Homo sapiens: one gene and its partner. The protein of the gene in region 1 purifies or fractionates together with the protein of each later gene. This does not show direct contact. Each region holds a gene or a part of one and is shown on either strand. Other genes may lie near its edges.

Region 1 (3,495 bases):
CTCTCTTTTCTCAGGCTCTCCTCGTCGCTGGACTCGTTTTGTTCTGCTATGTCAAAGTCCTTCTGCCGCTTGGCTCTGGACTTCTCCTCTGGCTCCGGCTTCGCTGTAGCCTCCAGCAGCCTGGCTGGCTTCCGCCTCCGAGGCCGGGCATCAGTGGCCCCGGTCTCCTGCTCACCGGAGTCTCCCTCCTGCTCCTCCTCCGCTGCCACCCCCTCTGCGTCCTCTCGCTGGGTGATCATGTCATCGGGCAAGGTGGTGGCCGTTTTGATGGGCCTGGAATTCTGAACTGTCGATTTGAGTTCGGAGAGTCTAACCATTCCTAGGAAAGAGGGTGTGCCACACAGAGGTGAAGGGCAAGGTGAATTAAGGAGACGGTGAGAACAGCAGCTGCCGGGCACAGAGCAGGCAGCGCACTAGGCATTTTGCATGCATGGTTTAATTTCATTTCCACACTACTCTATTCTAGAAAGATAGGGATCATTACCCTAATGTTACAGATGAGAAAAAGAAGACTCAGAAAGCACTAGAGTGGGATTTGAACCCACTTCTGTCTGATTCCAAGCCTTTGTCCCTTTCTCTACTCTGAGGAATAATGGGTATATAAAGAATCAGATTGTGAACAAGAATGCAAACATCTCTTTGAGAGGGAATAACCTGCTACTCAGTATAAGAAAGGATTCACTGGCTCCACTGGAAAGACAAAAATCAACTGGTCAAACCTTAAAACTGTGCTGCCTCTGGAAGGCAAGTGTATGAGTAAATTATACACTTACAAATAGTAGCTACAGTAAGAATTTTTAAACATGGAAAAGAAACATTTTATTAAAAAGTTTATTAGCTGGGCCTGGTGGTATACACCTGTATTCCTAGCTACTAGGGAGGCTAAGGAGGGAGGACTGCTTGAGCCCAGGAGTTTGAGGCTGCAGTCAGCTATGATCACGCCACTGTGCTTCAGCCCGGGCAACAGAATGAGATCTTGTCTCTAAAAGTAATAATAATTAATAACAAAAGCTTTAAACCTTTTAATAGGACAGAATAGATGACAGAGCACTGATATCCTCAATACAGTAGCAGTTACAACTCATTAAGATAAAAGGACAAAGAACACAGCTCACAAAGGAAGAACTACAGTAGCTGATGAGTATCAGAGAACTAAAACAAAGAATCACTACTTTTCAATTATTAAATTGGCAAAGATTAGAAAGTATGACAATACCCAGTGCTGGCAAAATGCAGGGAAATAGGTACATTTGGACACGGGGCGTGGGAGCAGAAACTGGCCCAGCCCAGAGCTGTCCAATGAAACATGCTGTGATACAATTATATAAACCACTTGGTGTAGTACTGAGGAATTAAGTTTTTAACTTTATTTAATTCTAATTAATTTAAACTTTAATATAAATAGCTACATGTGGCAAGTGGCTACCATATTAGACAGCACAGGTCTAGCCTTTTTAAAGAACAATTTGTCAAATGGAGGTGAACCTTAAGAATGTATTTACTTGTGACTCTGTAATTTTACTTAGAGGAGGTTCTCCTATGGAAATAATTACAGATGTATATACAAATTTAGCTACAAAGAGGCAGTATTTTAGGCCAGGTGCAGTGTGGCTCAAGCGTGTAATTCCAGGACTTTGGGAGGCCAAGGCAAGGTGGATCACTTGAGGCCAGGAGTTCCAGACCAGCTTGGGCAACATGGCAAAACCCCGTCTCTACTAAAAATACAAAAAATTAGCTGGGCATGGTGGCGCATGCCTGTCATCCCAACTACTTGGGTGGCTGAGGCATGAAAATCGCTTGAACCCAGGAGGCAGAGGCTGCAGTGAGCCAAGACTGTGCCACTGCACTCCAGCCTGGGAAACAAAGTCTTGCTCTGTCTCAAAACAACAACAAAAAAGGGGGCAATATTTTATTTCCTTTTCTACAGTAATGTTTCCTCTTTATAGTAGGCTTTTATTTAATAAAAAACAAAATCCCAGCTGTACACGGTGGCTCACGCCTGTAATCCCAACACTTTGGGAGGCCAAGGCAGGGGGGATCCCCTGAGGTCAGGAGTTCGAGACCAGCCTGGCCAACATGGTGAAACCCTGTCTCTACAAAAATGCAAAAATTAGCCGGGTGTGGTGGCACGTGCCTGTAATTCCAGCTACTCAGGAGGCCGAGGCAGGAGAATCGCTTGAACCTGGGAGGCAGAGGTTGCAGTGTACTGAGATCGTACCACAGCCTGGGCGACAGAGTGAGACTCCGTCTAAAAAAAAAAAAAAAAAATCTAGATATAATTTTTAAAAATATAAAAACTACAAAAAGGAATACAATGAAAAGTGGCTTAGTCTGCATTCCTGGTCTGCTCTGTAAGAGGCAAAAATGAGTTGGAGTGTGAGTGTGTGAACGTCTAGAAACAGTGTCACACACCCTATGTAGCTGCATTAGCCTTCTCCTTTCTTACGTTAATGGCAACAAACTCCCTGGAGGTTATTCTGTATTAGCTCACTAAAGTTCCAGGTCCTAGTCTTTTGTTACTACTAACAAGTGGCATTTCATAATCATTATCTCCTCCATATTTTTTATTATGAACCCCATCAATAAAACATCTTTGAAAACACAATTTTTTTTTATTTTTATTTTTTGAGATGGAGTCTCACTCTTTCACCAGGCTGGAGTGAAGGGGCGCGATTTTGCCTCCCTGCAACCTCTGCCTCCTGGGTTCAAGTGATTCTCCTGCCTCAGCCTCTCGAGTAGCTGGGACTACAGGCGTCAGCCTCTCGAGGAGCTGGGACTACAGGCACGCGCCACCATGCCCAGCTAATTTTTGTATTTATAGAACAGACGAGGTTTCACCATGTTGGCCAGGATGGTCTCAATCTCTTGACCTCGTGATCTGAGTGCCTCAGCCTCCCAAAGTGTTGGGATTACAGGCATGAGCCACCACGCCCAGCCGAAAATGCAATTCTAATATATGTATATTTACTTATTCAATTATATCCACCACAATCTAAAAACATCATTAAGTGACATGAAACATTCTAATGAAAATATTAATATTAAAAACAATGAGATTGAAAAATTGCTTAATACTGGATAAAATACTCAATTAAAGGTCTGGCTCCAAATTTGCTTTATTTTGGCACCTAACTTTGAATGGCCATCCTAGTTGGAAAAGATGACCCAAAAGGATACATCTATCCACATGTAGCGTCCTGCTGGCCAAGTTTACCATGCTCTGGTATTCATTGTGCAATACAAATTATGAAAACATTTTCATAAAAATCTTCCCCAAGCCAATCATTTGTTCTTGCAAACTAAATAGAAAGTGTTACTTATTTATCTGAGATGGGGCTCTTGCTCTGTCACCCAGGCTGGAGTGCAGTGGTGTGATCATAGCTCACTGCAGCCTCCAACTTCTGGGCTCAAGTGATCCTCCCACCTCAGCCTCCTGGGCAGCTGGGACTACAGGCCTACACCATCACGCCTGGCTGTATTTTTAACAAATGAGTT
Region 2 (3,654 bases), on another chromosome or scaffold:
TGGGTGCTCGTCGAGGAACACTTCAGGGATGCCGCTGTAGCCTCCTCTAAGGGAGCAATCATCAGCCTATCATCATCACCATCATCTGACCTGTACTTAACAAATCCAGATGCTTGACAACTCTCCGGAAATCCTTATGTGCATTTTGGAGATAACCAAATGGGTATTCATAGAGGTTAAGCGACAACACTATTATTTCGACTGAGCCCAGACCTAAGCACAACAGACATTCAATGTTCTTTTCTTGCTTTTTTCCCTGTATGCCTCTTGCACGACCACCAAGCTTGCAGCTAGCTACCCTTCCACCCTCAAGCATGCTTTGTGCCAGTCTACAGGCACATCTTCCCATCTTGCTTAACCTATCGACAGCATGTGATACAGTGACAATACCTTCTGCTTCACTTCCTTCCCGTGGCTGCCAGGATAGGAAACCTTCCTAGGGCCTTCCTCCCTCACTGCATGTGCTTTCAAGCTCTCTTCAGCTGCTTCTTTCCCTCACTGAGTGCTCCCAGGCAGTCCTTGAACTCCTTTTTAGGTTCACCGAGTCACTTGAAATTTCAGCTAGTCTCATGACTATCCACTAATAATTGCTGCGTTTATGGCCTCAGCCCAGGCTTCCCTGTGCACTCCACACTCCATATCTAAATGCCCACTTGGCATCTCCATTTAGCTAACAGGCATCTCAATTTCAACTTGCCTAAAACTACCCTCCTGATCTTTCCCCTGAAACCTGCTTTGCCTACAGTACTGTCCATCTCCGTTTGGAACAATGCCATCCTTCTGGGCAGTAAAACCGAAAAAATCTGAAAGCCACCTTTGGTTCCTTTCTGTTCCATCAACATATCCTTCAAAATCTATTCAGGAACTAAACACTTATTGCCACTTCTCCAAACAACCACCATCCCTCATCTAACTATCTAAATTACTCACCAGCCTCTTCACGGGTTTCCCTGCCTCTGCCCTGGTTCCCCTTTAATGTATTTTCAGTGCAAAGACCAGAGTGATCCTGCTGAAATGTTAAATCAGACCTTAGCAATTATCTTTGCCAAACTTTCCCATCCCACTCTCAGTAAAAGCCAACCATAAAGATGGCCAGGCCCTTAGGCTCTGCCCCCTCGAGCTCCCTGACCTCACCTGTGACCACTTTCCCTCCTTCATTCCACAGTTCATTCCATGGCTGCACAGGCATGTGTGCTGTTCCCTCTGCCTGGCAGGTTCTTCCTGCAGGCACTCGCACGGCTGCCTCTGGGCAGCCGCCCTTGGCCTCACTCACCCCATTGTGTTGAAGTCGTCGTCAGGGGGCACGTAGTCCTCGTCATCACTGGTCAGGCCCAATTCGTTCCCATAGCACTGGTGAACAAAGTGCCAGAGCTCCTTGGGACACAGAGGCTTCAGGGGAGAAAAGGAACGACTGAGCCTTGCTCCCTCAGGTCCCCCGACTCTGCACAGAGGCACTGAGCCGGGCTGGTTCCCCTGGAGAAGAGGAGAAACTCCTCTCTCCTTAGCTGAATGAGAGGCGAGCCACCACCCCCATCTGCCTTGGGGGTCTCAGCAGGACACCAGTCTTCTGCCTAGGAATGTGGACTTTAACAAAGCCAGGAACTGGCCTTTCAGTGCCCAATCCCTCAACAGAGGTTTGTAGAACGTGACCAACTGGCTCCCAGAGGATGGTAACTGTCTCACCTTTTGCTCTTATGGAAAAGGTCCAGCACTGAGTGGCATAAACCCATGTGACTCTGGGGCCAAGGGGATCCCAGAGCTTCTGATTAGCACTCTGAATGAATGCCCAGAGGTCCCCTGACCCGGTGCCCCACCACACTGCACAGAAATCTCCTCTTGTATTAACTGTGGCCTTACAGACCCTACTGGATCACTTCCAAGAATGAGGTTCGACCTCAAAGGTGGCCCATTCCATAGCTGGACAGTTCCTATGGGTAGAGTCTTACGTTCCCACAGTTTTAGGAACCTTACAGGTCATCTCACCTAAGCGTGTGACTACCCAACCTGAGGTGGAATCTGTTTGCCTGCAGTTCTATGCATTAGTTCCAGTGTTTTCTTATTTCACCGGGTGCCTATGTGTCCTCCCAAAAAAACACTGTTCTAAGAAAAGTTTGTTCTCATTGGGTTCAGAGTCTCCAGAGAGAGGCAAAGGGATGTCAAAGAACTAAGATCAGAGGCAGAGACCATGAATGAGTCTCAGACTGGGAGGAAGGGGAGAAGGTGGCAGGGATAAGTGTGTGGAAAGGAGGGCAAGGGCATGAAGAAAAACAGAAGCAATCATTATCTTTAAAAAAAAAAATCCCATTTCAAAAATGTTTGCACCGATAGACTTCCTAAAGAATTTGGGTGCAGCACACCAACATGGCACATGTATACACATAGAACTAACCTGCACGTTGTGCACATGTACCCTAAAACTTAAAGTATAATAAAAAAATTTAAAAATATAAAAAATAAAAATTGAACAATATTCCATTGGGAGTAAAAATAACAATAATAATAATAATAATAATTTGAGAGCTCCCAAGCCCACAGTTTCAGGTATGGTTTAAGAAGCAGGCAGCTGGCAGAGTACAATGAGCTAGGATTCCAGCTTTCTGACTAAGGAGAAGTGCCTGGAATGGCAGATTTGGGGCCCTGACTCTAGGCTGGCAGAGTTGGGGGCCGCAGCTCTCTATGCTGGACCTCATAGTGCCTGAGGGAGGTATCACCTCCTTCTCTCCTGGACCTCCCCCTCCTATCTCTGGCCTTTATGTGCAACATCCACCCTGCCTGGGACAACATTCACCCTGCCTGGGACACATCTGCCTCTCTGCCAAACCATATACTGCCCTGCTCCACCCTTTGCTTGCTCTCTGCAGACTTCTCTGACCAGCGCCACCTGGCTTGGCTTGGCCAACCACGATCAGGACAAGCACAGTTAGCAGACTCTCCTCGGCAGGCCCAATTCTTACAATTATTTGTGAGGGCATTTGCGAAGCATATGAATGACCCTGTGTCTTACTTAAAAATGACAGCAGCTGTGAACTGAAAACTCAAACCTGCCAGTAGAGACTAAAACACATAATCATTTTACTATTACTGATGGCAAGTGAAGGCAGAGGACCACAGCTCAAATAAGTTATCAGGAGTGATACTAGGGGTACAGACTCTCAGAAGAGAAGAAACTCTAAATAATAAATCCACTCAATTTTCTTATGCAGCCATTTGTTTGGGCTAGAGTCAAGGCCAATATATGTATATATTTAAATACACCCATGTCAATCATACACACACACACACACACACACACACACACATAAAAATTAATCCTGGGGGAAACATTATGTGTGTGTGTCGGTGCGTTTTCTCCTACATCTCTTTCTCTGGCTTGGAGACAGTTTCTCAACATCCAACTGCATCTGAGTGGGAACTTTTTTTTTTTTTAATTGAAACAGGGTCTTGCTCTGTCATCCAGGCTGGAATGCAGTGGCGCAATCACAGCTCACTGCATGAAGGGGTGGCTTCATCTGTGTCTCTTCATAGTTTCATTTAAACACTCAACTAGTCAATTCGTGGTGGCTGTGTTAACTACATTTTCTGTACTTTAAGTTGTGGCATCTGGGGCCTTGCTGACTGGGGAGGGACCCATCAGGGTTAGCTAATTCCTAGAGA

Evidence for each region.
Region 2: the proteins of DNAJC1 (region 1) and GRAMD1B purify together in Homo sapiens (co-immunoprecipitation; one large-scale study listed by IntAct). This does not show direct contact.

What each region holds. Positions count from the first base shown.
Region 1 is NC_000010.11:21,759,300-21,762,794, forward strand, and holds part of DNAJC1 (dnaJ homolog subfamily C member 1 precursor), read right to left. Parts: intron 320-3,495; coding exon 1-319. UniProt on the Homo sapiens protein: May modulate protein synthesis.
Region 2 is NC_000011.10:123,601,161-123,604,814, reverse strand, and holds part of GRAMD1B (protein Aster-B), read right to left. Parts: intron 1,390-3,654; coding exon 1,274-1,389; intron 1-1,273. UniProt on the Homo sapiens protein: Cholesterol transporter that mediates non-vesicular transport of cholesterol from the plasma membrane (PM) to the endoplasmic reticulum (ER).